Linked DNA regions of Homo sapiens: region 2 is linked to region 1. Evidence: fine-mapped expression QTL. A gene starts in region 1. The other region holds a variant in brackets. All regions are shown on one strand. Distances are between the middles of the regions.

Region 1 (11,814 bases):
GGCTGAGGCAGATAACTGCCTAAACCCGGGAGGCGGAGGCTGCAGTGAGCCGAGATCGCGCCATTGCACTCCAGCCTGGGCAACAGAGCAAGACTCTGTCTCAAAAAACAAACAAACAAAAAAAAACCACTTTCTAGACCTTTTTCACCTATAAAAGTATAATAATTTATCTCCCAAGGTTAGTATGCAAATTAAATGAGATAAAAGCTCTTTGTAAACTGTAAATAAGGAATGCTTTAAAATAATATTTAAAAATCATATACAGCATGCAAAATTAAGGTATTATAAAAGCCTAAGACAGCTAAAGGACAAGAGATCATATACCGACATACAAATATACTACAGGGTCAGGCACAGTGGCTCACACCTGTAATCCCAGAACTTTGGGAGGCCAAGGTGCGTGGCCATCACCCGAGGTCAGGGGTTTGAGACCAGCCTGGCCAACATAGTGAAAACCTGTCTCTACTAAAAATACAAAAATTAGCCAGGTGTGGTGGTACACAACTGTAATCCCAGCTACTCAGGAGGCTGAGGCAGGAGAATCGCTTGAACCCAGGAGGCAGAGGTTGCAGTGAGCTGAGATCGTGCCATTGTACTCCAGCCTGGGAGACAGAGCAAGACTCCGTCAGACACACACACACAAAGAAATATACTATAGATTTGGGAATCTTCCACACTGAGGTAATACTAGATGAAGTAGATTCTTTCCCTAAACTTTTTACAAGTATTAGAATCTATTTTAAAAATCAAAATATTTTTCTAAAATTTCTTATGAATATTGAAGTTTTACATGTTACAGAAATGGACTCCCACATACAAAATACAGTATTTTGCTACATGTTATTCCAACTTACACATAAGACAGAAAAAGACTCCCTAGAATTTAAACTGCTAAATTATTTCATTGTTTTAAAAAGCCAAGCTCTGCAGAGATAAATCTAGCAATCAACAAATGTTCTCTCAGAAGTTACTTGCTTGAAACATAGCACAGCATTCTAAATGGTGCTTCCTCCCTTCATCCCCATTTCTGGTACTTAGGCTTAATAATAAACATCTCTACATACAGTACATACTTTATTTATTTATTTATTTTTTAGAGGCAGAGGTTTGCTCTGTGGCCCAGTGGAGTGCAGTGGTACAATCATAGCTCACTGCAACCTTCAACTCCTGTGCTCAAGTGATCCTCCTGCCTCAGCCTCCCAAGTAGCTGGGGTTACAGGCACATGCCACTATGCCTATTTTTGTTTTTTTTGCAGAGACAGGGTCTTGCTATGTTGCCCAGGCTGGTCTCAAACTACTGGGCTCAATCGATCCTTCCACCTCAGCCTCCCAAAGTGCTGGGACTACAGGCGTGAGCCACTGCACCTAGTCATGGTACTTATTTAAAAACCAGGCAGTAAGCTCCTAAAGGGCAAAAAGCATGTCTTTTACTTGTCTTTCCCATAAGAACCACCAAGCATAGTGCTAGCCCATGTTCGATGTTAATCCATACATATGTTGAAAAACACTCTAGCTAACTCATGTTGAAGATGCTCTACTAACCATTTAAGAGTTACTACTCATGTCTGGTTACACAACTTGAGTCTATCTTGAACTCTTCAAGAGGCAACCAATAAAAAAAGTTTAAAAAAAAAACCTCTCCAAATATTACATGAAAAACATTTTCATGTAAATAAGGAATGCTTTAGATTAATATGTGAAAATCATATACAGCATTGTTCCTTTAAGAAAGCAAGACTATTATCTGTGATGAGAAATCACAGTTCTAACAATGTGATGTTAAAAAGACTAATTTCTGAATAGTCCATAAGTTGAAGCATACTGCTATACTTGTTCACATTTACAACCTGTACCCAGAATGTTGTTTCTTATAGATCCTAATCCAACAATTTCATTCACTATGATTTTTCTTAGGGGGAAGAAGATTTTAAGTTTTGTTGTTTAACTTTTGAGGCAGAAAAATTTAAAGCTGACTGGTTAGGTATAAGGTTTCTTTCAAGTGAAAACAGACTAATCTCTAGGTTAATTCCAAGATAAAAGTCTTAAAATTAAACCTCTATTATGAAAGAGATTCTAAAAAGATTAAGCATGAAATGCACCCAATCCCTGCCTTATAAAAAATCGGTAAAAGCTGTATGAATAGCTTCCCACTTTTGCACATAGACCTGAGATTTAATATACATACAGTATATACATTTTGCACATGGGTATCTATATGTAGTGATTTAGAGGCAACACATCAAGGTAATTGAGTACTTTTCTCTCCTAAGTTTAAAAAAAAAAAGGTTTCTAAAGTGCTGCCTTAAGTTACCATAATTTGTGGATTAAAAGATATATTAATAATACCTAAGGGAAATTCCAGAGTACAAGCACCTGCCAGCCAAGTTGCCTGAAATTCATCAGCTGCGGAGATTAAAAGAATTCTTCACTTGTTTTTTATGTAAAACAAAGATAACATAATCAGTACCATGTAACTTCAATGTGGCATTTATAAAATGGCCAATCACTTATCATTCCTATGATTTAAAAAACCACTACCTAGTCTTAATTGCCATTAGACATCTTATAAAATGCACATAACACAGTGGATTTCTTATCTAAACATGCAACAATCAAGGGTACAGTTTGAATTTTAAGTTTTCACTTCACAAAATGAGTCACCATAGGATTCTCTGAAATAATCTCTTCTCTAAAATTATTCTGTTTATAAAGTACTCAATTTTTCTGCTTATAAAAATGTAGTTTTTTCACCATTTTTCAAGAATCTATCTAATATGTAAAAGGAAATACACACATACTTCCTTGAGAATAAATGCTTTCAATAGTTGTAACCCCAGAAGAACTTCACGTTTTGACTTCTTGTTTAAAAAAAAAAAAAGTTTTTAAACACCTACTAGAGTAGAAGTGCTTGCCTTTATATTCATGGCTCTCCTGATGGTAAAATAAAGATCAATGTAACTCTAAGCTCTAGGCTAATTAACTGCAGAGAACAGAAACAAGCAATTTGGCAAGAGCTGAGCAAAGCTCCGCTTAAAGACTACCAGTAAAATATACCAGCACTACTCCTCCCCCACCCCTTTAAGGTTTCAATTAAGATGGGGCCTAGTTTTACTCTTGCAAGGGGGACAGAAAGAGAAAGCACAGAGCTCCCACTGAGAAGTATCTTCATCAAGAACAGCTCCAGAAATACTGCCAGGAACCATTTCCTTCCCTCTCTGCAGATGCAGGTTCCTCTGATAGGCATATCTCCTCTGCTCCTGATTAACACCATATCTAAAGGAAAGTCTCATCACATACCACCCAAAGCATGGCATCAAATGAATTTTTTAAATCCAACATTAGGGTCAACAATGACGCTCTTTATGAAAAGTGTGAGCCCCAACTGCAATTCATCTTCATCTCTCGGTCTTTTGTATCACTTGCCTCATAAACTGGTTAAGAAAGAAGAAAGCTATTACAAAGCATAATCAATGTTTGAAAATAAACATTAAGTGCCCCAACTGGTGAGAAAGACTCCTCCTAAACACTTACAGAAGATGAAGCTTTAACAAGCCCTCCAGAAATCTTTAGAGCCAACACGAAAGAAGTTAAAGTGATCTCACCACTCCTACAGGATGAGGACCCAATACAGTATAAAGATAGCACAGCTCTCCACAACATCCCCTAAGAAGACACTCAATTTTTACTTTAGTATAAGATCAGCCCTTCAGCGGACATATAGGACAAGTTTTTCGGTCCAACACTTACTGTGAATAAACCAACGCATGGAGCTAAAAAAGAACCAGGGAAAAATGGATGTCTCTCTAAAAAGAGCCCAACCTAAGTAAGGAATTACAAGACATCAAAGGTTAGATAATGGACAACAGGTGCCTTTGAGGAGGAAAGAGTAACACAACACTCAGTTGCCTCCTATTTTAGGATTTCCACTCTGAAAGCAATATAACGACAATTTTTTCTGCCCAAGAAAAAGGGAAGGCCAAAATTATAGGTTTTACTATTTAATATCTATAATAGGCCCATTGCTCTTTGACTTACTTTTTTACTTTAGATTTTAAAAATCCATCTCATCTCGATATTATCTGGATATAGTACGGCCTATGGCCAGACTGCTCACTGATCAGTGAACATTAACCAAGTAGAGACTTATTATCAAGAAATGTAAAAGAAAGGCGTCTGAATACAAGCTACCTGCACATAAAAAACTCAAAATACAGTTCCAGCAGTAGGTATCACACAACTGCGTTATCAGCCAAAGCTGAAACTGTTTCTCTCACCATTCTAACAGTTGAACTTAATCTTTTACTAGATTTCAATGGCCTCGAAGAATAGTAATTCCAGATTCAGCTTCTAGGGCAGCGAATACTAGCCTGGAGTTTTGATTTTCCTAGCCAGAAGATTACCTTCATCTGGTGAAAGGAACACTGAAAAGGCACTTCAGCCTATTTAATAACCTCTTCCCTTTCTCCATTCCACAAAGACAACATCTTCCAAAAATGGAGAATCCTTTCCTTCCCTGATAGAGGCCCCCTTTCCTATTGATTCATTGGGCAGAATCACTTCTCCCCAGCATGTATGCAGAACCAGAAAACACTTCTGCTTTCACTCTTAAAGAGGGTCCCCCAACACAGATGCACCTCTTCCTTTCCTGCATTAAGCAAATGATGCTCCGATGCTTCTAGGTCTCTCCACCACTGCAAAATGCTCAGAGAAGTGGAGGGATTGAAAAGGAAGTTGCCTACTACTCTGAAGGATACTGGAAAGTCGCCTTCAAATCTAAAGTGAAGACTTGGGGGCGGGGGATGCCCCCTTCCTGAAGAGGGAATGAGGGTCCCTCCCCTAAAAAGGAGCCTCTGTTCGGGTGAAGGCGATCCCCACCCTGAAAGAGAGGCGTGTATGTGGAAAGGTGGTGGAAGGTTGTACCCTGAAGAGGAGCCTGGATTTGAAGAAATGTCCCAACTCTGAAGGGGGGTAAGTGGAGGGAGCCGTGAGTGTACGGGGAGGGGTGTGCCAGCTATCGGGGGGCCTGAGAAGGAAGGGGTTCCCACTTTGGGGGAACGAGGGCCCCGCACTGAAAGGGGCTCCGGGAGGAAAGGAGGGTCTGACACAGAGGAGAGTTGGACATGGGGGAGGGGCCCTCAGTCCACCGGAGTCCGCGGAGGGGCGGCAGCCTCGAAGGGAACATGTGCAGTGGAGCCGCTGCCACCCCGAGGGGCAGGCGGGAGGGCAGGGCCTGGGCTGTGTGCGGAAGGAAAAAAGTTCCTACCCTTCGCAGAAGACGCAGGACTCCCCAGCCGTACTCACCGAGACTGCCGGCGAAACCGTCCATCTTGCGGGGAAAGCGCCGGGCTCCGGGCTTAGAGGGGCGGGCACTTCATTCAGCGGACCGACAGAGTGGCCGACGCTGAGCCTGACCCGCTCGTTCTCTAGGTCGCCCGGCTCGGCTACCGGCTCCCGCCTCCGTCGTCCGTCCGTTCGCCCTGGGGTAGTAAGCCGCGGCCGCCCGAACCACTTCCCCGTCACGTTGAGAGCCGCGCCGCTCAGCCGCCTGCCCGGCCTCCCTCCCAGGCAGCAGCCGCGAGCGCCGCGCCGCGCCGCGCCCCGCCCCGCCCCCGCGCCCGCGCGCAGCAGTAGCCCCGCCCCGCGCACGCCGTCACACTTCCGACTCCGCCTCCCACGTGACGCCACGGAGGCGGGGTCTTGCCAGCCCCGCCCTCTCACCTTGCCTCGGCCTCGGCGTTTGTCCGCCTCGCGCCAGGCTGGTGGTTGCGCCTGCGCGGTAGGCCTGCTGAAGGCTGGGGACCACGGTTTGGAAGCTGGTTCCAAACAGGTGGGGATAAGGCATAGACTCTGGCCTGCGATACTCTGATGCATGAAGGATCCTCTCCCTATGTGGCCCCTGGGAAGCCCGCAGAGCCAAGACTGGACCCCCGTGACGGGAGATGACCACCACGTGGGTCCTACAAGGACACTAAAGAAGCAACCAAGAGGGAGAGGTTCTCCCTCTCCCCCAATAGGGTGGGGGACAAATAGGGGCGAAGCTTCTTGACTAGCTCGATACCACCACTGCCACAGCCGCAGGGCCCGGGACAGATCAGAAGCAAGGAATTTTAGTGCTGGACATGACCCAAAAGTTCATCTTGTCTAACCCTTCTTATGAAGAAAAACACAGAGCCTTAGAGAGGACAACCTGCCCAAGGTCATCGAACCTAGTAGAAGCAAAAACTCAGCCTTCCTTACTCTCCCTAGCGTTCTGTCGTCTAGGGGTGCAAAACGACCATATATGGCAGGCTATAGGATGGCCTGCTAGGGAACCATAATAAGGGTTATTTCAAATGAAGTAACACTGAGTTCTAGGCCCAACTCCGTATGACTCAAGAGTGTCAAATCACCTAATTTATTTAGGCGTCACTTTATTCATTTGCAAATTGGTTGTCTGGACATGTAACCAAAACATGTAAATATACATAGCGTTCATATTCTTCCTCCCTTCCCCAACACGATTTCCCATACTTCTAAAGACTTTCTCATGGTTTGTCAAGTCCCTCCTGGGGCTCAGTTGTGCAGATTAGAGTAAGAGAGAGAAGAGCTGTAAGGTACTGAAGAACTGAATTGATCTATACATAATAAATTGATAAATACATAATAAAAAGCTGAGTTAGGGGAAAACAGAGTCCTACTACACAGAGTTGCAGGAGAGAGGGACAAACAAGAAGGGAGACAAGAAATATGTAATGATGAGAGAGACTTAGAGGAATTAAATGATTGAAAGGATTGTTAAACCTTCTTGGGGTATACGTCTCCCTTTGTTGCCTCTTTAAAAATCTTCCCTAAAAATGTAAATTACTTTGCATTTCTTATTTGGATATAAGACCTGTTTCTGAATACCATACTATATGGAGACTGGCCATAACGCAGCCAAGATAAATTCAGGTTACAGACTAAACGGTGTCTAAAATTTCCTTCTCTTCAAACTTAAATGATTTACCCAATGTTCCTTCTGCTATGGGCATTTTCATATGCATAAGTTTCTATTAAGCCTAAGTAAATGTTTGAGAAGTTCTCAATTCTGACAGCTGTTCCTTTGTGTCTTCAGGCCACACTCTCTGCCTTAGGTCGATTAAAAGAATAAGAACTTGGCATATTGGTATACATATGTTTTATGGTCCAGACCTGGAAGTGTGTACCTCCCTTTTGTCCACATTCCACTGGCCAGAACTTGGTCACATGACTGCAAGGGAGGCTAGGAATGTAGTCTGTGTATCCAGAAGGAAAAGAGACATATTTTGGTAACAGCTCTCTGGTTTCTGCCACACTCCCCTTCGTGGCATTCATCAGAGTTAAAATTTTTCATTTGCTTGAATGATTTATTCAATAAGCATCTCATTCATTATACTGTATACTACAAGGAAAGCTGTTAAAATGTAGGAGAGTTAGTACATCCCAGCAGTTAAGAGTGCAGACTCTGGAATCATGCTGCCCAGATTCACATCCCAACTCATCATGTACTAGCTATGAAACACTGGACAAATTACCTAACCTCTCTGTGCCTCCATTTTATTGACTGCAAAATGGAGATGATAACACTTCTACTTCTTAGAGTTTTTGAGAGGATGCTATGAGGTAATATATGTAAAGCACTTAAAACAGGGCACAATATGTTATAAGTGCTCAGTAGGTATTAGCTGCTCTTATTTTGTACCTGTTTTTGCTCTCTATTATATACTTAGTGCATATTACAGAACAGCTTTTTGATAAATATTTATTGAATAATGAACAAACATAGAAGAATTCTGAAAACTAGTCAATCTGAATACATTGTTTCAACAACCAGTGCCTGAGTGTTTTAAAGCAGCCAGAATTTTTGTTTTATATTTATCAAAGTACATCTTGCAATCTAAGCCTCTAATACTACTATGATAAAATAAAATTTAACATACATCTTTCAAAAGTGAAACCATAGCTGAACATTATCAAACACACACACAAATACTAAGGTTCTAAACAGTTACGAATTACTGGAGGGTTATTTTGGTTATTCACCTTAACAAAGGATTTATCTTTAGATTATTTTCAATGTGGAGTTCCATTGCCCCTTTGAGCTCCTTAAGTATAACTTAATTCAGGCAAATGCAAAATATGTGCCGTTTTTCAGGATCCCAGTTATTGGAAAAGGCTAAATATAGCTGTATCAAATAATGAAAACTTAGAACATTCCCTTTATGGTTTTGGTTTTTGAAACAGGGTCTCACTCTGTTGCCCAGGCTGGAGTGCAGTGGCACGATCTCAGCTCACGGCAACCTCCGCTTCCCCGGGTTCAAGCAATTAGCATGCCTCAGCCTCCCAAGTAGCTGGGATTACAGTTGTGCACCACCATGCCCAGCTAATTTTTGTATTTTTAGTAGAGACAGGGTTTGGCCATGTTGCCCAGGCTGGTCTCGAACTCCTCACCTCAAGTGATTCGCCTAGCCTTGGCCTCCTGAAGTGCTGGGATTACAGGCTTCAGCCACCATGCCTGGCCAGAACATTCTCTTTATACATCGAATCTTGACTCTGCATACTTACCTTCCCCTCTATGTCAAGGTTAGTATGTTGTGGGAGGAGTTTCAGAATACTTGTGAAGATACATTGTCAAAGTCTTGACCTAACGTTTGAAGAAAAATAAGATTCCTATTCAATTTCTTTGTTTTACTCTCACTAGCTAGATGATCTTGAAAAGTAACTATAAACTGTTTTTGTCTGCTTGCTTTTCTCTCCCGCAGACATTTTAAAATAAATGCCAAGGAAAATTAAGGGTTTTTTTTAAGTATGCTGTGTCTTCAGTTCCTTTTATTTCATTATTTGAATGTTATTTAAAAAATGAAACCCTATAGTCATGGAACTATATAGATTGTATAAACCTGTAGTCCATGTAAGCACAAATTTGATAGAAAAAAATCAGAGTTAATACCTGAGTGGGGGAAAAAAGGGATTCTTCATTTTTATAATATGTTTAATGTAAGCAGTGTGTAAAAGAATTCCAAAATCTATAAGAAGCTAAATGGCAATGTTATTCTAGCTTCTAACCATAAAGAATGCCTAGGGAGAACTTCAAAATTATTGCAAGAGAAATAAAAGGAGTTTGAGAGGAGATACCCCAAAGTGTCAAAAGTAGCTGCCTCTGAGAAATGAAATTAAGTGGAAGAAGGAAAGGGTAGAGGAGAGATATGGGGGATTTCACTTTTATTTTATTTTAATCATAGAAGTATTCATTTTTTGAAAACATTAAAATGCAAAAACAAAAAATATATTTCACTGCATATTTAGACACTCATAAACTGTGTCTGTAGAGACTGGTTTAAAATATCATACTTATTTAATAACTGTTTTACCAATCTTGGCATGATGGTTATCTCTCTCGTAAGACTTTCCAGACTTGCTGACTTCAGGAAAGAATCAAGCAATTAGTAGTGCTGTAAATTCTTGGTGAGAACTTATGAGACTGAAATCTATCCTGTGGGGATCACAAGCCATACCTCACTTGGAGGACCTGCTGCATAGATGCATGAGTGAGTGAACGAATGCCTATTGAGGTTAATTTTGGCATTTCTCATGGTGCCATCCATGACCTACAGAAAGAAGACAACTAGCCTTGCCTGCAGAGCTAAGTTTTCCCAATGCTAATTCAGAATTTATGCCATGAAATGAGATTTGAACTTGTTGAGATTGTGGAACAAACTTTAAAGTTTCTTTTTATGTGTTATAGCTTTACTACATTTACTGGATGTTGCGCAAGCCTTAGAGATAATAGCTAATAATTTTCATGTGTCCATCATAAATGTAAAATTTTTCTCCATGAAGAGTTCATAACAATCCCTTACAAAATTGATATTCTGCAGGGAAATACTTTTAAATAGAAATATTAGAGTGGAAAGCAGCCAATCAAGGAAATTCAATTCTCAAAATTAATAACACAGGAAGTTCTCTACTTGCAAATAAAATATTTCCAAAAGGTCATTTGTAAGTCAGCAGTTTGAAATTAGTAATAATGCCATAATTGGTGGTTAGATTGCCACTTAGCCCCAAAAACATGTAGCATGCTGATCCTAACCTGCCTGCGTTAAACCACACTGATGACAGCCTTACTTAAGGTTTTGAACCAGACAGGTCTGAAATTGAATATTGCCTATTATAAGCATCTGTGGGTTGATGTTGCAACCTAAATACAACATATAATACCGTTTCAACTTTCAAAGTTCTGACTTATGAAGGTCCTTAAGTGGTAGGTTTCATTATCCCCATTTTTCAGACAGGGAAAATGAGCCTCAAGAGTATAAAACTATAAAATGGGAAAATCAAGTTTTGAACCCATATCCATCTACATCTGAAAATCAAACTCTTCGCTGCACCAGTTTGCCTTTTGGGCTCAATGGGATTCTGTTGTGGAGATCCTTGAACACCAGACTGAGACGCCTATCAACAATGCAGTTTTAGCAGCAAAGTGATATGATCAAAGCATTGCTTTAGGAAGATTAAACCGGGTGGACACATTGGAAGAGGCACTGGAAGTGGGGAATCCAATTAGGAGACTTGCAGTGAAGCAGTAGCTGCAGAAAGCGCCAAGAAAAAAAAAATCTTGTGAAGGAAAACATGAATTAACAACAAACAAAACCCTCGCAGAGCTGGGTGGACTGATTGCCTCAGAAGCTAAGGAAGAGGAGGGAGTAAAACAGGTTATCCAGGTTCAGCTCCCAGTGATGGAGAGAATAATGGCAGCATTATATTAAAATGGGAACTTAAAGAAATGATGTGACTGGAGAAAAGAAAATACAGTGATGAATTAACCTTTGTGGGAAGCTGAAGGGAATCAGAGGTCATCTTTGACAGCTGGGGCCCAGGCACATGACCTAGGCCAAGTGAATGCCTCAACCCAGGTCTTTTAATGGCAGGGATGAGTTGGGGGGCAGTGATACAAAAACTAGCAGTCAGAGACCATGCTTGAAGATAGTTGAGAAATTGAAGAGCAACAGTGATGGTGTGCAGAGGTAGGAAGTAGGGCAGCCCACTCCAGGGCAGCGTCCTCACTAGAGTCCTAAAGAGTAAACTTGCCCATGCTCTCTGTGCCCTACACTGCCTGGGTTTCTGCCCATTTTCTGTGCCTGGCCCTCTGATCTTCCCATCGACTGAAGGAGCTACCTGATATCCTCCCAGCGAATTTGTTTTCTGCTTGAGTCAGCCAGAGTGGGTTTCTGTTGTTTGCAATAGAGAACTCTGAGTGGTACAAGTGCTGCGTTCAGTTTTAAACAGATTGTGCTTGGCGTCATAACCAGATGTCCAGATGGAAGCCTCCAGCACACAGTTTGAAATGTGGACTGTGGTTTAGGAGCGGGTTGGGTCTGGGAATATACACGCAGGAGACTTCTCAATAGAGCCGATGGTTTAAGCTATGAGAAATCTTAGAGGAAAAAGATTTAAGGGAAAAAATGGAAATGAGCAGAATGTAGAACTTGAGGGACCTCCAATATTTAGGAGGCAAGAGAAGGTGTCAGAGAAGAAACAATAACAGCAATAGAAGGCAAATCCTGCTAGTGCCCTATCACAGAACCAAAAGGAGCCAAAAGGTTGTTTTTTTTTTTTTTTTTTTTAATGATGGAAGTTGGAAGCTGTTAAATGCTACAGAGTCCAAGGAAGATGAGAAGTGAGGAACGGATACTAGATTTAGTGATTACGAGATCACTGGTCTTTAGAGAGTTGTTTATCTTGATGGTGGAGGAAAAAATCAAGTTGCAGGGGATTAAAGACTGAAAGGGGGGTCTGAAAGTGGAAAGAAAAAAATGC
Region 2 (11,814 bases), 27 kb after region 1:
AACTCTTATCATTAATGTCAGAACTTTCCAGAATATTAAATTACATGTGTCTGTGAATGTATATTTTTCCATTAACAAAGCAAAAGAAAAAAAAATTAAACCCACCGAGTTTCATGAAGTTTTCCACTTGGAAAGATGTTCTGATTTGTATGAAGGGTAGGCCCATAGTCTGCCCTAATTTTATTTGTTGCTCCTCTGGTTTTTTTTTTTTAATGTGCTTCCCTGTGGCTAATGCCAAGTGTGCATTTGCCAGATCATCTGGACATACTCCAAAAGAAATAGCTCACCCATATCTTTAAAGAAAAAAGCATTTCATACATGTTTGAAAGCTAAAGTAGCTTGAGGGTAGGGGTGGGGGATAGAGGACAGAGAAGACAGAGTTTCATATTTTACTAGCAAATTTTGACCAGACTTTCTGAACCTTAGCATTTTAGGAATTTGAGTTGGCCAAGTCAGTTGTGAAAGACTCCCACATAGCAGGAATTGAAAAAAAAGGACAGATTATTTACATGAGTTTTCTACTACCTAATTGGATAGATACTGTTCCCTAACCAGGCACAACAAAAACATGTTTGTTTATTTTAAGGCTGTCTGCTGCCCTGCATTGTGAGTTTGCTCAGTGGGCCAGCGTGGCACAGAAGCACAGTTGAGAGACCAGACCCGGGGCCTCTGGAGGAACGTGCTGGTATCATCGCTGAAGAGCTTTCTCAATGCTGGCTGGCTGTTGTCAGGAGCAGTCCTTAGACAGGCTCGCTTCTGGTAGTTCAAAGAATCAGGTTGGTTTAGCAATCATGTTATCCCTTACATTACTTGTATATTCCTAAGTGTATTCCAAAGACGGTGAATTCCCATCCACAGTATAGGTGCAAACTGTGATGAGATGAGGCTTGGGGTTCTAATGAAGTGCAGGCCACAGATTTTAGAACACAGAAGAGAGGTTCTGAGTGTGGTGGTGAAGAGCATGGACTCAGGAGCCAGACTGCCTGGGTTGGAATCCCAGTCCCCAGCTTCCTGGCCATGCTATCCTGGGCAGGTTACTTAACTACCCAGTGCCTCAATTTCCCCATCTGTTATATAGGGATTAAATAGCCCCTACTTTAATAGAGTTAATATAAGTATTAAATGAGTAAGATGATTAGGAAATTGACATGTAGTAAGTGACATATATGTTTGTTAAATAAAGTGGAATATACTGATGACTGGTATTCACTCTAGAATTCTACATTCTCACATGAGAAAGAATACAAATGCTAGAAACAACCCAAATTGGGGCAAATCTAAATAAACTGCAATATGGTTGTACTATGAAACACTATGTAGCCACTTTTTTTTTTTTTTTTTAAATCTTGAGACAGGGTCTTACTGGGTCACTCAGGCTGGAGTGCGTGGCACCATCTTGGCTCACTGCAACTTCCACCTCCCAGGTTTAAGTGATTCTCCAGCCTCAGCCTCCCAAGTAGCTGGGATTACAGTGTGTGCCACCATGCCTGGCTAATTTGTTTGTTTGTTTGTTTGTTTATTTATTTTTTTTGAGAGACAAGGTTTCACCATGTTGCCTAGGCTGGTCTTGAACTCCTGAGCTCAAAGCAGTCCACCCACCTCAGCCTCCCAAAGTTCTGGGATTACAGGCATGAGCCACCCTGCTTGTCCTATAGCCGCTTTTAAATGAGGCATTTTTATATATGCTGTTGTGGGATAACCTGTAAGATATATTGTTAAAGAGACAGAGCAAGTCCCAGTACAGCACATGTAGGAGTAATTATAAGAACTAACATTTACTGAATATTTTTTGTGTCGGGCACTGTTTTAAGAGCTCTACGTATATTAACTCATTTAATCTCCATAATAAGTCAGGTACTTGTCATTTTTCATTGTGGAAATTAATGAGAAAACTGAGTCTCAGAGGTTAGGGTACTTGTCTCAGGTCACACAGTGGGTAGATAGATGAGCTGGGACTTGAATTCAGACAAAGTTGCGCCAGTGTCCATTTATTAATCACTATGCTAAGCTACTCTCCCAGTAGAATAATCTCAGTTGTGTACAAATAAAACTACATACGTAAAAAGAAAAATGCATGTTAAAAACAACAAGGTCTGAAGGCATAGACACTAACCATTAATCTATAAAGGGAAGAATGGGAATCAGTGGCGTCAGGTGGTGGCAGAAGCTTAAGGTGAGGGGGACTTTCATTTATTATTATATATATCTGAATATTGTTTGAATTATTGAGTATTATACAAATATGAATTTGTATATTGCTTTTAGAATTAAAAATAATTGTAAAATAAATGAATAACAAACACTTATGAAAAATTTACTTGATGTCAGGCAGTGTTCCTTAGTGTTTTACAAATATTAAATAACCTAATCTTCTTAAAAGTCTCCATTTTGCAGATGAGGAAACTAAGGTAGTCATTCCACAGTTGATAAGAGACAAAGGTGGGATTTGAACCCATATAGTCTGACTGCAGATTCTGTGTTCTTAATCATTATTACACACACACAGACACACACACACACACACACACACACACACACACACACACACGCATGTGGGAGCTGAGATCTGAGCCAATGGTCGTCACACATTTTCAAATTCTAGACCAGACTACTAACCACCCTGTGCCATGGGGAACACCCTTTAGTCTGGTGCTTAGAGGTATAAATTCTCAAATTGCACAAACATGGACTTGAATTCCATCTCTGCTAGTTACTAGCTGTGTGATCTTGGGCTAGTTATTTGACAGTTTTGATCTCTGTATCCTCAACTATAAAAAATTGAGATAATAGGCCAGGCGCAGTGGCTCACGCCTGTAATCCCAGCACTTTGGGAGGCTGAGGCGAGTGGATCACCAGGTCAGGGGATCGAGACCATCCTGGCTAACACGGTGAAACCCCGTCTCTACTAAAAATACAAAAAATTAGCTGGGCGTGGTGGCGGGCGCCTGTAGTCCCAGCTACTCGGGAGGCTGAGGCAGGAGAATGGCATGAACCCAGGAGGTGGAGCTTGCAGTGAGCCGAGATTGCACCACTGCACTCTAGCCTGGGGGCCAGAGCAAGACTCCGTCTCAAAAAAAAAAAAAAAAAAGAAAAAAAAAACACCTGAGATAATAATAGTCACTCTCATAACGCTGTTATGAGGATTTAAAAATATTAGTATACATAAAGTGCTTAGCACAGAACCTGGCATACAGTAAGAAATAAATCAATGTTAATTATTGCCATTATAATTATTAGTATATTATCTAGGCACCCCCTTTTCAACTTATATTAAGGTTGAGGGTAATCTTTTTCTCCCATCTTTATTTGGGACACTAAGACACATCTTTGGTCTAGCAATATCTGTAAGGAATCTACTTTTTATTTTTTATTTATTTATTTATTTTTAGTAGAGACAGGGTTTCACCATTTAGGCCAGGCTGGTCTTGAACTCCTGACCTTGTGATCTACCAGCCTCAGCCTCCCAAAGTGCTGGGATTACAGGCGTAAGCCACTGTGCCCGGTCAGGAATCTACTTTTTGATGTGATTGCAAAAAGTTTACCAAGATATACGTTTAAAGATATTCACTGAGGTGTTATTTGTTCTAGCAATGAACTGGAAACCACCTAAACATCCATCATTAGGAAACTGATTGGTTGGGTGTGGTGGCTCACTCCTGTAGTCTCAGCACTTTGGGAGGATGAGACAGGCAGATCACTTGAGCCCAGCAGTTCAAGACCAGCCTGGGCAAAAAAAATTAGCTGAGTAGGGTGACATGTGCCTGTAGTCCCAGCTACTTGGGAGGCTGAGGTGGGAGGATCATTTGAGCCTGGGAAGTCGAGGCTGCAGTGAGCCAAGACTGTGCCACTGCACTCCAGCCTGGGCGACAAAGCAAGACCTTGTCTCGAAAAAAAAAAAAAAAGGAAACTGATTAAATACATTTTGATACATACAAATAAGGAATAACATGTGAGGACTCTGAAAAGGCCCAATACATAGCAGCCTTCTTCCCTGTTCAGAATCTGAACAAACTGAGAAAACGACAGATGAAGGCAGAAATCTCTCTGATGAAGGCTAATTTGCATGCTGCACCATGTGTTATCTCATACTGAGAGACAAATAGGCTTCCTACTATGGAAACCCCGAATTGGATAGACATTCTCCAGTTCTGCCCACTTCTGGGGGAGTGGTAGGCAACTCCATCCTAAGAAGAAAAGGGCAGAATTGAACCTGAAAGGTTCAATTTATATAATCAGATAAATCACTCTGCACTCAAGGGGTGGTGGAAGTAAAGGGACAGAAAGGGGCCAGGAATGACGTTAGCTGAGTGCCTTTCACTTGGAAGGCACATTCTCTCCTAACAAAGATTGTGCAGACATTAAAAGTAGAGAGTATGGCTGGGCACTGTGGCTCACACCTATAGTCCCAGCACTTTGGGAAGCTGAGGTGGGTGGATCACGAGGTCAGGAGTTCAAGACCAGCCTGGCCAAGATGGTGAAACCCCGTCTCTACTAAAAATACAAAAATTAGCTGGGCGTGGTGACAGGCACCTGTAATCCCAGCTACTCAGGAGGCTGAGGCAGAGAACTGTTTGAACCCGAGAGATAGAGGTCGCAGAGCCAAGATCGCGCCACTGCGCTCTAGCCTGGGCGACAGAGACTGTCTCAAAAAAAAAAAAAAAAAAAAGAGAGAGTATATCTGCAGCTCGTGTTTGAAAGATCTCTGAGATGGTGTTTAAGGTGAAAATAATGAGATGCAGAATGATTAATACAGTAAGATCTCCCTCATGGAAAATTTTGTTAGAGGACATACATAACTATGTCATAATAAGGATGCACACAAAAAAAATAGTAACACTGGTTATATTTTAGGGGAAAAACTCAGGGCAGAAGAGGTATTTTTCCTTTTATACCTTTTTTTACTGTTTTAATTTTCTTCCCCTGTGTATGTATTACTTTTATTTTTAAAAATACTGTTAGGGGTTATCTGGACTGTGGGATTAATGACCATTATTACTTTCTTTTTCACAGTGCTCTGCAAAAGTAAGTTATAATAAATGTTATCTTAAAAAATAAAAACAAGGCAACTGTTTTTTTTTTAAGTGCCCTCTCTAGCCTTGGGAGTCCTAATGAGCTATAATCACAGAGACGCCAGACTAGTCAAAATTGGAAGAAAGAGCTATAATCACAGGAAAAGAACTCTCTCCACAATTTGAAGTATCCCAGAAAAAGCAGCAGCAATGAGGACAGACTTCAAGACAAGCAGAGAGGAGCAGCCATGGCGGGGCCTGCAGTGGCTACAGGGGGCCTCTATAGCGTGAAATGACATCAGAAAAGGACCTGAGTGGCCCAAGAAAGGGAGGACGGAAAGTCAAGGAGGAAAGTAAGCAGGAGTTGAATTTAGGAGTAAATGCTACGGTGATTATGACTCACAGCCTCATGGTCCTCAAGGCTGGAGTGGC[G/C]TTGGAGAAACCAGGTCATAGTTGTATAACCAAGGTACTCTGCAGGATGGACTATGGAGCTGCCTCCTGCAGCCACAGGTGATCAAAATGAGGTCTGTGTGACGGAGCCTGCAGCGAGGCAAGATGGCTGCCTCAAACAAGTCCATATTTCATCTCTCCTCCTAACCTCCTGCCTGCCAAAGCTCTGGCAGGGAACTCATTACAACAAAGCATGCATGCACCCTAATTACCTGTCATACTTCTCTGTTGCTGGACCAGACCCTATAAGAGAATTCCAAAGAATTTATTTTTATGGGAACAAAATGCAGTAATTGATGTTGCAATCCTGCCCAAATCACTGAACAGATCCTTTAACATCCAAATTCCCTAAAACAGCTTTGACTTACTACACACTTCACATGCCAGCTAGTGTTTGAAGTGCGTGTAGCCGCCCCCATGAAGCCCTTTCTTACTGTAAGTGCTCAAGAACAAAGATATTTCTTAAACTTCCTTTGATTCTCATAAAATAAAAATAGCCATTACATAATAAAGCACAAAGCTCCATGGGTTAAGAAGTCCCTGATGTTTTTCCTGCCTTCGGTCATTTTCTTTGTTTAAAGCATTTAGAAACAGTGAATGTTCATGAAGAAAAAAAAAAATCTCCAGCGGGAAAATGAGTGTGAGAGTTAGTCAGCAGCTAGACTCACTCATACGTCCATGAGGTTGTAACTTAATCTGAAAATATAGTCTTTCCTGGAAGAGACTTGAGCAGCAATTTATCATTTTATAATTTGTGGTTTAAATTTGAGCCATAAACCAAGCAGCTGTATTGGTTTGAGGCACTTTTGAATCTTCTTAAAACCCCAGGAGGCAAGAGGACAGCTTTAAACTTGAGGCTCCAAACTCTTGGGGTTTAACTGAGAGAACACGAAGGACAACGTTTCTGTGTGCCCTCTCTTTTCTTAGGAAATGTATGGAATGCATGCCTTTGTTTGTTTTAGACTTGGGAAGAAAAAGCAGACTTTGATAGCTGGAGCCACAAGCCGGCCCCTCGTATCTTATGACATCGGGTTTTCGTACATTACAGGGTCCCCTGGGAAATGAGAAGCTGGAAGCCGAGAGAGGGGGAAATGGGCGGAGAAAGGGGAAGCAAGGGGAAGGGAGGAGTGCCGGAGATAACTCTGCTGACTTCACAATTTTCCACCGGGGCCTGCCCTGCCTACCTTTGTTGACATCAAAGCTCATTGAGAAGCCTCTGTGTGCTGGCTCAGTCAGCCCTGCCTGCTGCCAGTGGGAAAAGGAATTGGCAACTAGCCCTACAACAAAACTGAGAACATAATTCTTGAAATTAACTTTTCCTTAAAAATTTTTTTTTCCATCTTGGTATGGCAGCTCTGGGTCCCGTCCGCCACCACTTGCTGGGGTTCAAGCATCCACCAGGGAGGAAAGCAGCTTTTACACAGATATCTCCAGAAACTCGGGCAGCCTCCCAAGGTGTCTCACTGGTTCTGCAGCAGTGTTGGCTTTCTGTGGGCTGATGGGTGTGGCTTTTGCAATCATGTTGGGGCGCCTGGATTTGGGAAGCCTGGGCTCCTTTATGCAGAGCAATGCAGAGCATCAGATTTTGGCTGGCAGCTGAGCTCTCAAGTCGGCTGCCGTTTCGTCTCTCCTCCCTGCTCCCCTGCTGGGATTCGTTTGTTTCCATTCCCATCTCTCTTTTCTTTGGAGTCCTCTGGCCCCTCTCCAGGGAGAAAGCAGAGGAAATAAGATGACCATCCTGTCTGCTGTCACTTATGACCTTCAAATCTGCTTATCACTTGAATCCCAGGACAAAAAGAGTCACAGCACCCTTACTGAGCAAAAGCAACTTGCCATAGATTCTACATGTTAAAACCCAGTTGGACAGCACAGTTAAAATATATGCCTGTGTGGCTGGGCGTGGTGGCTCATGCCTGTAATCCCAGCACTTTGGGAGGCCAAGGCGAGCAGATCACAAGGTCAAGAGATTGAGACCATCCTGGCCAACATGGTAAAACACCGTCTCTACTAAAAATACAAAAATTAGCTGGGCGTGGTGGCGTGCTCCTGTAGTCCCAATTACTTGGGAGGCTGAGGCAGGAGAATTGCTTGAACCGGGGAGGTGGAGGTTGCAGTGAGCTGAGATCCCACCACTGCACTCCAGCCTGGTGACACAGTGAGACTCCATCTCAAAATAAATAAATAAGTACATAAAAAATTAAAAGAAAATATATGCCTGTGTGTTCTATCTCATAGCTCTCTGCTCCAACAGCCTCAGGCAGTATGAGGCATGCTACCCTTTACCATCTTCTCCTGTTCAATATGAATCTAAAGATAAGCCTGGGCTAGAAGTAGGTTCCCTGGCAATCCAGCTCCAGCAACAAAGAAAGCTGAGCATAAAAAGCAGTTTACAGTTTCTGCAACTGGTTATAGATTGTATTTATTTGTTTATTTAATTTAATTATTATTATTATTTTTTGAGATGGAGTCTCGCTCTGTTGCCCAGGCTGCAGTGCAGTGGCACAGTCTCGGCTCACTGCAACCTCTGCCTCTTGGGTTCAAGTGATTCTCATGTCTCAGCCTCCCAAGTAGCTGGGACTACAGAAACACACCAGCATGCCTGTTTTAGTAGAGACGTGGTTCCACCATGTTGGCAGGCTGGTCTTGAACTCCTGACCTCATGTGATCTGCCTGCCTCGGCCTCCCAAAGTGCTGGGATTAGAGGTGTGAGCCATTGTGCCAGGTCAGATTGTATTTACAAGTCACAGGATGTCAGCATCCTCCCATCTTTTTTTTTTTTTTGAGACAGGATCTCACTTTGTCACCTAGGCTGGAGTGCAGTGGTGTGATCTCGGCTCATGGCAGCCTCGACCTCCTGGGCTCAAGTGATCTGCCCACGTTGGCTTCCCAAAATGGTAGGATTACAGGCATGAGCCACTGCACTCGACCTATTTTCCCTTTTTTAAATTTACCACTGCTAGGCCGGGTGCGGTGGCTCATGCCTATACTCTTGTCCTTAAGGGAAGTAATAGGAATTGTCACATTTTAGATAAGAAATTGGTGAGCACAGTAATTCAAACCCTATATTTTGAAACCAGGGATTTTAAAATTGGGAAATGAGAACTTAAACAACGTAATTAAGAGGCCTGCCTGAGGTAAGGGTTCATTAGTTAATCCCATGAACAAGAATTAGCACCTGAGTCAGTTTGGAACTATGCATCCTCAAGGACCCAAATCCAGATGAGACAGGTGAGAGTGTTACTCAAAACTAAGCTTACTACAAGAGATGCAATTAGCCAGGTGTGGTGGTGGGTGCCTACAGTCCCACCTACTTGGGAGGCTGAGGCAGGAGAATGGCTTGAACCCGGGAGGTGGAGATTGCAGTGAGCTGAGATTGCACCACTGCACTCCAGCCTGGGAGACAGAGTGAGACTCTGTCTGAAAAACAAAAAAAAAAAAAAAAGAAAAAGAAAAAAAGAAAAAAAAAGAGATGCATTGAAGTTATTTTCTGCTTAAGAGAGCTGAAACCCTGCCCTTGGTTATCTAGACTCACATTGACTCCCCCAGACTGCCAATGCATTTGAAACTGATTCAAAATGCTTTTTGGAGATCCATCTCAATTCAGCTTGCAGGCATTCTTGGGGCCCCCTTCCAAGAAGAAATGGACCGGCATCCTGTCTGGGCTAGACCCAAGTTAGGCTCTGTCTGTCTGGGAGAATGTCATTTCTGCTTTTGAATGTCTGATGGCTAAAGCTCCAGGCTCTTGCTCCTCAATCAACACCACCACATATTCGCAGTGTTGGCTCGACTTGCAGACCTTAATCTTTAGCTCCCACATAGATGAGACAATTCTTTTTTTAAAGACATTAAGGATATATTAAGCTTCTCTTCCCTGAATTCTGTTTCTCAAACTTCCATCATCATCCCCTACTACTACTTACTGAGTACCTAGTATGACCTAGATACTGGGGCAAACAAGGGAGACTTGGTCCATGCCTTCATAGGCCTTTAAGTACCATAGGTAATAATTGTATCATTGTATAACCAAGTTAGAGATAAAAAAATAAAATGACAGACAGCTCACAGCCTTCTGTCTCATTAATATTGCATTCACCCCACCTAACAAAGTAGGAGATCTAATAGTCAAGTTCTTCAGTGTTCTCTTGGCTCACTTCCCAGCTGTGGTCAAATTCTCTGCATGCTCTTTCCTCCTTTTCTGGATTACTTGAGGAATTGCCAGGAGAGCAGAGGCATGAAGAATGCAGGCAGCGAAAGAGAAAAAGCATCTGCAAATGACTGACCGAAGCCAGTTGTAGTTAGACAGAATCAGGGTTCTCAGTTGCAAGCAACAGAAACCAACTCTGATTGATTTAAACAGAAAAATAATTTGTTGAAATGCTATTGGGCAACTCATAGAAAAACTGGGAAGGCTAGAGAAATAGGCTCAAAAAACACAGGAACCAGAAATTCAGGATCACAGCCAAGGCTATAGGTACAATCACAGCACAGGGCCTAAGATGATGATACCACTGTTGCCACTGCCCAGTGCTGGACCACAACTTACATTGTCACCCTCTTCAGCTGCAGACACTGGATACCACCATAAGCACCACTGCACTGGGAGCTTGTATATTTTTGCTGCCCTGCAGTTTCCTGTGAAAAGGGATCCGTATTTGTTGGTGCCAGTAATTTCTGATTCCTTCTGGAGCAGCTGCACCTGTTGGCCAAGTCTCGGTTATGTGTCCATATCCTACCTTTAAAAGAGACTAGAAAGGAGAGTATCTGGGCCAGGCGTGGTGGCTCATGCCTGTAATCCCAGCACTTTGGGAAGCCAAGGTGGGTGATCACCTACGGTCAGGAGTTCGAGACCAGCCTGACCAATATGGTGAAACCTTATCTCTACTAAAAATATAAAAATCAGTCGGATGTGATGGTGGGCACCTGTAGCCCTAGCTACTCAGGAGGCTGAGACAGGAGAATTGCTTGAACCCGGGAGGTGGAGGTTGCAGTGAGCTGAGATCACCCCACTGCACTCCAGCCTAGGTGACCAAGCAAGACTCCGTCTCAAATAAAATAAGATGAAATAAAATAAGAGAGTATCTGGTCCTTAGGGCTCTTTCTTAGGACACCAAGATTCATAAAAAGGTAAATGTCCTAAACATGTGAAGGGAGTTCAGATGCTGAGTAACCACAAATGACTCTACCTAAACCTCCTTCCTCTAATCCCATGTGATAGGGAGGGCCTGGGTCAACATTGCTGAAGAGCCAGAAAATCAGAAATGAGTCCAGTATCCACATTCCAGCACTAAGCCCAGTATCTACCAACCCGAGAAGCAACTGCCCTAGGCAAGCAAGGGCAGCACAATCAGGTTGACCTCTCCTCGGGGACGAAGGAAAGATGGCCCCCTCTCTCCCACAGGAGACTCCCTCAGCCCCAGTGAGGAGAGGAGAGGGAGCAGTGGGCAGGCTGTTTGATCCTCCCCACCTGCACCTGGATCAGCCCTGCCTGCTCCAGTCATCCTTTTCACACCAGCAGGAAGGAAATTGAAGCTACTGCCATTGAAAACACAAAAGACAAAAGCCCGTGCCAGAGGTTTGTACCTTTGGCCTTGACCTCTCATCCCAGGCCTGCTGCTTAGATTTTTGATAATCTACAGACTCACCATGATTTTGCCACAGCTAGCCACCAAGCCCTAGGGGTGTTACCTGAGATGGGGATGGGTGGGCACGGAGAGGGACATGTGTGTTAATCAACAACCCACAGCCCCTGGGCCTCAAATAAAACAAACAAAAAAATGGAAACTCTGTTTTGAGTCATCTAATTATTTGTTCCCTGCCTTTGGAGGAGAGGCAAACTAACCCAAAGTGTAGCCCTCATTAGAAGGTGATCCATACCATCAGGGAGTCTCTCAAGTCATTCTCACGATCCTATCCTGGGGTGGGCCCTTGGTGACATCCTGTTTTCCTCTATTCCTTTACTGGGGATGTGGCTGGGAAGCGCCTTCTTGGCAGGGTGCATAATTCCCACTGTCTGATTCTAGCTTGGGGAGAGGAGGGTGGGGTGACAAGTAGAGTGTGTCTGTTCCCATTCTTTCCTCTACCCCTAACCACAAACTTAGCTTCCACCCCCACTCTTTCCTTAAGGCTGTCAGAAGCTCCTGAGGGAGCCACATATGAAGGCTTCATAACAGCTCTGGGCTGTTGAAAACTCCTGAGTACACGTTTATTAATAAAAATCACTAGAAACCAATATATTTAGAATACATTAGCTTAATTCCTTATAAAAATTTTTGCACTGAGCCAAGGTTCAATACTGGAGTTCTGACTTCTTTTTTTTTTTTTTTTTTGGGACAGGGTCTCTCGCTCTGTCACCTAG

Evidence for each region. PIP is the estimated chance that this variant, and not a neighbour inherited with it, causes the effect.
Region 2: its variant is fine-mapped to the expression of EML4-AS1 in whole blood (TOPMed, PIP above 0.99).

The regions. Positions count from the first base shown.
Region 1 is chr2:42,163,124-42,174,937 of GRCh38, reverse strand. EML4-AS1 (EML4 antisense RNA 1) reads left to right here and starts at 4,707. Exons shown (of 4, transcript NR_110584.1): 1 at 4,707-4,968. EML4 (EMAP like 4) reads right to left here and starts at 5,585. Exons shown (of 23, transcript NM_019063.5): 1 at 5,302-5,585. The coding sequence starts at 5,326. RefSeq lists silencers at 5,574-5,633, 5,734-5,783 and enhancers at 5,199-5,851, 5,864-6,003.
Region 2 is chr2:42,136,613-42,148,426 of GRCh38, reverse strand. It overlaps EML4-AS1 (EML4 antisense RNA 1), which reads left to right. Exons shown (of 4, transcript NR_110584.1): 3 at 587-776; 4 at 5,083-5,992. Among named protein-coding and RNA genes, the nearest start is that of EML4, 27 kb to the left of the region's middle. RefSeq lists a silencer at 6,924-7,218 and an enhancer at 6,790-7,587. The variant G/C (reference allele first, on the strand shown) is at 5,442.